Homo sapiens: one gene and its partner. The protein of the gene in region 1 purifies or fractionates together with the protein of each later gene. This does not show direct contact. Each region holds a gene or a part of one and is shown on either strand. Other genes may lie near its edges.

Region 1 (3,815 bases):
AATGTATTCACAGCTAACATCTGTCATCTTTGTTAGATGCTGTACAGATAGTTGTCAGAATTTGTCCTTGCCTTCAATGAGATCATAGCCAAGGAGAAGCCATCAACCACACAGGTGGATTGAAAGAATATAGGCTCTAGAGTTAAAAAGCAAAAACAAACAAAATAAACACACAAAAAGTAAGGCTCAGATATTACTCTGCCACTTGCTCTCTGAGTTTCTGGGTCTCTTGATTTTTTGAAGCCTCTCTCTACCCTGTATACAACAAGGGTGATTCCTCCTGACTCTAGGGATTACACAGCAGGCATTCAGCAAAGTGTCTTCCAATCTCCCAAACATGAAGCAGAGTATAAAGTGAAGAAAAGCAAGAGAAGTGATGAGGGCCTACCCATCAGAGGAGAGGTTTCTGGCACAGAACAATTGAGGGGAGGCCTGGAGAATGCAAACCCTCAACTTCAAGCTCATGACAGGTGTTATGGGGATTACAGACGTGTTTTGAAAATACCTCTGCCCTGAAGGATCTTACAGACCAGAGTATTTCATGAATCATGTAAGATATGTGCATTAACACATTAGCTTATTTCAAATTAATGTAGGATAATGCAGACTCAAATATTTAGGAGCTGAGTGTATCAAAGAAAAAAATGTATATATATACACATTATATATATATATATCAGTTGACCTTGAAATTCTTATTAAAGGAGCCCTAGAAAGGTACATTTTCATTCACTCATTTACCAAATATTTGTTAAGGACCTACTTTGTCCCAGTTCCCTTATAGAAATTCAGAAATTTAAAGACTGGTGTTTCTGAAAAATGAAGAAAATACAGACTATGCAGACATTATGTTTGATTTAATAATGCTATCTTATATTTGCAGCAAGATGTAAGACAGCCTACTACTGTCTCATGATCTTTCAGTTAACTCATTCTAGAGATGAGGAAGCAAGGCTGGGGGAGCGTAGGCAACTGTCCTTGGGATGCTCAGCTGGTGGGAGATGGAGTCTAGATTCAGACATTCACCTGTGTGAAGCCGCAGCACTGACCCTTCCTGCCACTGAGCTATCTGTATTGCTCTGACATGACCGTTATCCATCTGATTTGCTTCCTATGGCAACCTTGTGAAGAAGGAAGAGCAGGGATTCCTACTCAACCTTTATAACTATGGAAAGCAAGGCTCAGAGAAGTGAAGAAGTTTGCCTAGGGTCACATAGTTTGTTGGTGAAAAAGCCAGGTTTGAAACAATGTCTCTCTAGCTTAAAAACCACGGCTGGTGGTTCCTGAGGCTCTATGAGCCAAACCCAGGGATCCTGGCAGAGTGTAGTGGACAGGAAAATCCCCTGCAGCCCTCGATTCCAAAGAACAGTGGCCCATTTGTGTGTCCTTCCTTCCTGCTCCAGGGTGGCCTCATCGCGCTGCTGCTGCTGCTGCTGGTGTTCACCGTGGCGCTGTACGCCCAGCGACGTTGGCAGAAGCGTCGCCGCATCCCCCAGAAGAGCGCAAGCACAGAAGCCACTCATGAGATCCACTACATCCCATCTGTGCTGCTGGGTCCCCAGGCGCGGGAGAGCTTCCGTTCATCCCGGCTGCAAACCCACAATTCCGTCATTGGCGTGCCCATCCGGGAGACTCCCATCCTGGATGACTATGACTGTGAGGAGGATGAGGAGCCACCTAGGCGGGCCAACCATGTCTCCCGCGAGGACGAGTTTGGCAGCCAGGTGACCCACACTCTGGACAGTCTGGGACATCCAGGGGAAGAGAAGGTGGACTTTGAGAAGAAAGGTGAGTCCTCCATGTCACAGCCCATTTTCCAGGGGGCATTTTGAAAAGATGGGAAGAGGTGCAGAAGCTGGGCAGTTGGGGACTACAGGCAGTGTTTTCTGGGATAAGCCACTTTGGATTTATGGCTTTAGATTTCTGTTGGGTTATCAAGTTTGTCTTCTCTGATTCTTCAGTAGTGATGAGAGAATAAAAGAGTGTCAGTACTCCCAGAATTGGAGTTGTGAGGAGCCTCAGAGGCTATGCAGTCCAACATCTTTCCAGTGTCTCTTGATTACCTCCTTTGACAGCTTTCTCACTACTCGGAAAAGAGGCCATCTCATTTCCACACAATTACTGACTATTAGAGGGTTTCTTCTTATACCAACTTGAAATCTGTGTTCACGGTCCCCCATGTCCAAAAGGAAAGTGATCTGATATTCTTTTTCCAAGGCAGCAGCTCTTGGGAAATTTGACAACACAAATAAAAGAGACTGTACATTTTAAACAACCTAAACACCCCAGTTTCTCTAAATAGTCTCATATAAAGCATTTTTCAGACATTTCACCTTCCTGGTCACTGCCGTCTAGACAGAAATTCTAATTTTTCACATCCTGGGCCATAACACCCAAACTGACACTCTTCTTCCTCAAGGCAGGAATGATCCAGGGCTGAGAAAAATGGGATTTTTGTCTCCTTCTTGCCAACTGTTATACTTCTATTGATGCAGCTTGAGATCCCATTTGTTTGTTACAGTTATTGCTGGCTCATATTAGACTTCTTTTATGTTTTTTTATATTGACAAATAATGTTCGTACATATTTATGGAGTACATAGTGATATTTTGATCCATATGATATATGGTGATCAGATCAGGGTAATTAGTATATCAATCATCTTAAACATTGATCATTTCTTTGCATTGGGAATGTTCAATAAGCTCCTAGTTATTTGAAACTATGTATTACATTAATAAGTAATCTTTAAGTGGTATAGGACACTAGAAATTATTACACCTATCTAGCTGTAATTTTATTTCCTTTAATAAATTTCTCCCTATTCCTGTCTCCCTCCTACCTTTCCCAGCTTCTAATATCCTCTGTATCCTACTAGCAGCCTCGAGCATTCTTTTACTTCTATGAGGTCAATTATTTTCAGCTTCCACATGTGAATAAGAATATGTGACATTTAACTTTCCATTCCTGTCTTATTTTGCTTAATATAATGTTCTTCAGTTCCATCAAGGTCGCCATAAATGAAAGGATTTCATTCTTATTTATGGCTGAATGTATTCCATTGTGTATACATACCACCTTTTCTTTATCTAGTCATCTGTTGTTGGACACCTAGGTTGATTCCATATCTTGACTATTGTGGATAATCCTGCAGTAAGCATGCAGGTGCAGATGTATCTTCAATAAGCTGATTTCCTTTAATTTGGATAAATACCAAGTCATGGGATTGCTAGATATATGGTAGTTCTTTTTGTAGTTTTTAGAGGACCTTCCAAACTGTTCTATATAGTGACTGTACTAGTTTACATTCGCATGACAGTGTATGAGTTTTCTTTTCTCCGCATTCTCACCAGCATTTGTTATTTTTGACTTTTTTATAATAGCCATTCTAACTGAGATGAGATTATACCTCATTGCAGTTTTTGATTTGCATTTACCTGATAATTACTAATAAGGAGCATGTTTTCGTATATTTGTTGGTCACTTGTATGTCTTTTGAGAAATTTCTATTCAGAACAATTTGTCCACTTTTTTATTAGATTGGAGGGTTTTTTTGTTTTTTGTTTTTTTGTTTTTTGTTTTTGCTGTTGGAATGTTTGAGTCTCTTGTATATTCTGGATATTAATTCCCTATTGGATAAATATTTTATGAATATTTTCTCCCATTCTGTAGGTTGTGTTTTCATTCTGTTGTTTCCTTTGCTGTGCAGGAGCTTTTTAGTTTGACATATAATCTTGTCTACTTTTGCTTTTTTTTTCTTTGCCTGTGCTTTTAAGGTCTTACTTACAAAATCTTTTTTCAGACCAATGTCTTGA
Region 2 (3,815 bases), on another chromosome or scaffold:
TTTTGAGACAGAGTCTTGCTCTGTCACCCAGGCAGTGGCACAATCTTGGCACAATCTTGGCTCACTGCAACCTCTGCGCCTCCTGGGTTCAAGTGATGCTCATGCCTCAGCTTCCCAAGTAGCTGGGGTGACAGGCATGTACCACCACGCCCGGCTAATTTTTTGTATTTTTAGTAAAGACAGGGTCTCACTCTGTTGCTCAGGCTGGTCTCGAACTCTTGGCCTCAACCAGTCCTCCTGCCTTGGTCTCCTAAAGTGCAGGGATCACAGGCATGAGCCACCACACCCGGCTTCGAGTTTTTGAGCTAGGGAGGGGCAGAGGGAGCGAGAGGAAGACAGTGGTGCTGGCAGGCGAGTCTGCGCCTTACAGGTCGAGGCAGTCGTGGGGAAGGGCCTGGCAGGATTGACCTGGCCGCCTCCCAGCAAAGGCAAAGGAGCCCTGGAAGGAACCACAGAGCCCAGGAAGCACTGTGCCAGGATGGGGCAGGGGTGAGAGTAGAGAAGGCACAGTGGCTCCTGCCGGCTTTAATCCTTGACCACAAGGGGGAGAAATGCCAGGGCCATCCCCACAGACGCAGCAGCGTGGTCCCCGAGTCAGGTCTGGAGAGGAGGCCTTGAGGCCCAGACAGGGCTAGGGCAGAGAAGGCTGTGTGCATGCGGAGACTGCTGGGCCCCTGGAGGCCAGCACAGAGGAGAGGTGAGGCCAAGCCAGGCAGGACATGGGGACGCCTGCATCAGCCTGGGACAGTCCACCTCAAGGGTCAGAAAAAAAGGGCTGGGCAGGTGGCAGAACTTCCAGGTTTAGGTTTAGAGAAGAGAGACCTGAATGCCGTAGACAGAGCTGGACTCCATCCTTGGGTGATAAGGGATCCCCGAAGTTTCCAAAGGAGATGGGTGGGGAGGGGTTCCATGCAGCATTTTGCAAAGAGTCCCCTGCAGGGTCAGCCAGGGTCACAAGCAGAGGCGGGAGGAGCCAAGGGGTTTGGCTCAGCAGGGGGACCCTGGGGGCCGATAGCAGCCGTGCACCATTCCCTCCTGAGACTCTGTGCTTAGGGGCTGGTCCTGATGAAGGATGAGCAGGGCCCTGGGCTGCAGGGTGGCAGTGAGGAACAAGGAAAGGCCAGGCGAGGGCTGCTGCCCGCTGACTCCACCACCTCTCCAGGGAGGAGCGGGGCCGTGGGCTGGGCCATCCCGCCTGGTCCAGGTCACTGAACGGCCACTCTGGTTTCCTTCCATGCCCAGGGAGCCCTCGTGTGGGCAAGATTGTTATGACTGCTGCCGCCAAGCACCTGACACCTGTCACCCTGGAGCTGGGGGGCAAGAACCCTTGCTACGTGGACGACAACTGCGACCCCCAGACCGTGGCCAACCGCGTGGCCTGGTTCCGCTACTTCAACGCCGGCCAGACCTGCGTGGCCCCCGACTACGTCCTATGCAGCCCTGAGATGCAGGAGAGGCTGCTGCCTGCCCTGCAGAGCACCATCACCCGTTTCTATGGCGACGACCCCCAGAGCTCCCCAAACCTGGGCCGCATCATCAACCAGAAACAGTTCCAGCGGCTGCGGGCATTGCTGGGCTGCGGCCGTGTGGCCATTGGGGGCCAGAGCGATGAGAGCGATCGCTACATCGGTGAGTCCTGCTGCCCCTACCACAGCCCACCTGGGCCAAGACCCCTCCTCACTGGAGGGCCCAAGGCTGGGCCACAACTCTGGACCCGCGCCTGAAACCTGGCCCCACTGCCAGAGCCCGGCCTTGAGCCACAGCTCCAGTGCCATGATTCCGTCTCTGTGCTTCTAAGTCTGTGGCCCTATGAGGCCAAACTCTGGTCCCTCACCTTGGATTCGCTGAGCTCAGATCCCAGGGCTCCAGGGCTCAGCGTGCTAAGATGAACTCCCATCCCACCACTGGCTATCCTGAAAGGCTGTAACCTCAGATTCTCCGAGCCCACAATCCCCAGGTTCTAAACTCCGAGAGTCCCGTCCTGAGCCCCCAGTCTCCTGGGCCGTACGGCTCAGCAGCTCATGGGACACTGCGGCGCCAACATTCTGGGACGCTGTTGCCTCATGAACTCCAAGGGTTCTAAGATCCCATCACCCCTGACTGTGAGACCAAGGTCGGGGGATTCTCTGTGTCCCACAGGCCCTGAGCAGGCTGGGGAAGCTCTAGAGTCCCTTCTGGGGGGCTGTGGGGAGACTTTCTTCCCTAAACACTCCAAAGCCTGAAGCCTTGGGAAGTCAGACCTTGGGATCCTGGCCTAGAGCCCTGGCCTGTGGCCCTGTCCCCACCTCTACCCCCACCCTGGGGGCGGTCCTGACTGTGGCCCCAGGGCTGAGCTGTCTCTGGTGCCTGCAGCCCCCACGGTGCTGGTGGATGTGCAGGAGATGGAGCCTGTGATGCAGGAGGAGATCTTCGGGCCCATCCTGCCCATCGTGAACGTGCAGAGCTTGGACGAGGCCATCGAGTTCATCAACCGGCGGGAGAAGCCCCTGGCCCTGTACGCCTTCTCCAACAGCAGCCAGGTGGGGGTGCGGCCGGGCTGGGCAGGGTCAGGAGCCCGCAGTGGGCAGCACAAGTGGTGGCAGCAGGGGGGGCACCAAAATCCAGTGGCTTCAGGACTTTGGGATGGTGGACCTCTTGGCTCTGTCTCTGCCCACTCTCCTGGAAGCAGCTGAGCCTCACCCACCCCAACCCTGTCCCCAGTCTGGGCCCCACTCTCCTAGGCCTTCAGTGGGCAGCTTCCTGGGGTATGGGCCTTCTCTAGGGTCCAGTGTTTCCTCTAGGTCAGCCCCTGCCTTTGTCCTTCTTACACATCGGGGCCTGGTGGCCACATGACCCCTCAAGCCTGGCTCTGAAGGCACAGGCAACGTGTCGGGGATGACCCAAAGGTGCAGGTCCAAGAATGAGCCCTGATCCCCTACCCCTGCTTAAGCTGCAGAGGCAGCCTGGGAGGCCCAAGGCCAGAGTCCTCAGATTAAAAAACACCAAGAGGTACCAGCAGTCCCTACCCACCCCGCCCCCTTCCCCGGCCCTCAGCCAGTTCCTCGATTCCCTCCACTTGAACTTTTTTTTTTTTTTTTTTGAGACAGAGTCTCACTCTGTCACCCAGGCTGGAGTGCAGTAGCACAGTCTTGGCTCACTGCAACCTCTGCCTCCCGGGTTCAAGCGATTCTCCTGCCTCAACCTCCTGTGTAGCTGGGATTACAGGCGTGTGCCACTATGCCCGGCTAATTCTTTGTATTTTTAGTAGAGATGGGGTTTTGCCACATTGGTCAGGCTAGTCTTGAACTGCTGACCTCAGGTGATCCACCTGCCTCGGCCTCCCAAAGTGCTGGGATTACAGGGATGAGCCACCGTGCCCGGCCACTTGAACTTTTTTTAAATAAACTTTGTATTGGGAAATACTTTTAGATTTACAGAAAAGTTGCCAAAATGGTACAGAGAGTTCCCATGTACCCCACACCTAATTTCCCCCATTTAATGGTGCTTAGATGGGTCAAAACTAAAAAAGTGATGGCAGGGCTGGGCGCGGTGGCTCACACCTGTAATCTCAGCACTTTGGGAGGCCAAGGTGGGAGGATTGCTTGAGCTCATGAGTTTGAGACCAGCGCTGGCAATATAGCAAAACCCCGTCTCTATGAAACATTTTTTTAAGATTAGTTGCGCATAGTGGCGCACACCTGTAATGCCAGCTGCTCGGGAGGCTGAGGTGGAAGGATCTCCTGACCCATAAAAAAAAAAAAAAAGTGACAGCAGTGCTTTACTATTAACTACACTCTAGACTTTATTTGGATTTTGCTGTTTTTCCACTGACATCC

What was found.
Region 2: the proteins of ASTN2 (region 1) and ALDH3B1 purify together in Homo sapiens (affinity purification with mass spectrometry; one large-scale study listed by BioGRID and IntAct). This does not show direct contact.

Annotation. Positions count from the first base shown.
Region 1 is NC_000009.12:117,212,331-117,216,145, reverse strand, and holds part of ASTN2 (astrotactin-2 isoform g precursor), read left to right. Parts: intron 1-1,403; coding exon 1,404-1,788; intron 1,789-3,815. UniProt on the Homo sapiens protein: Mediates recycling of the neuronal cell adhesion molecule ASTN1 to the anterior pole of the cell membrane in migrating neurons. Promotes ASTN1 internalization and intracellular transport of endocytosed ASTN1.
Region 2 is NC_000011.10:68,020,243-68,024,057, forward strand, and holds part of ALDH3B1 (aldehyde dehydrogenase family 3 member B1), read left to right. Parts: intron 1-1,242; coding exon 1,243-1,629; intron 1,630-2,352; coding exon 2,353-2,519; intron 2,520-3,815. UniProt on the Homo sapiens protein: Oxidizes medium and long chain saturated and unsaturated fatty aldehydes generated in the plasma membrane into non-toxic fatty acids. May have a protective role against the cytotoxicity induced by lipid peroxidation.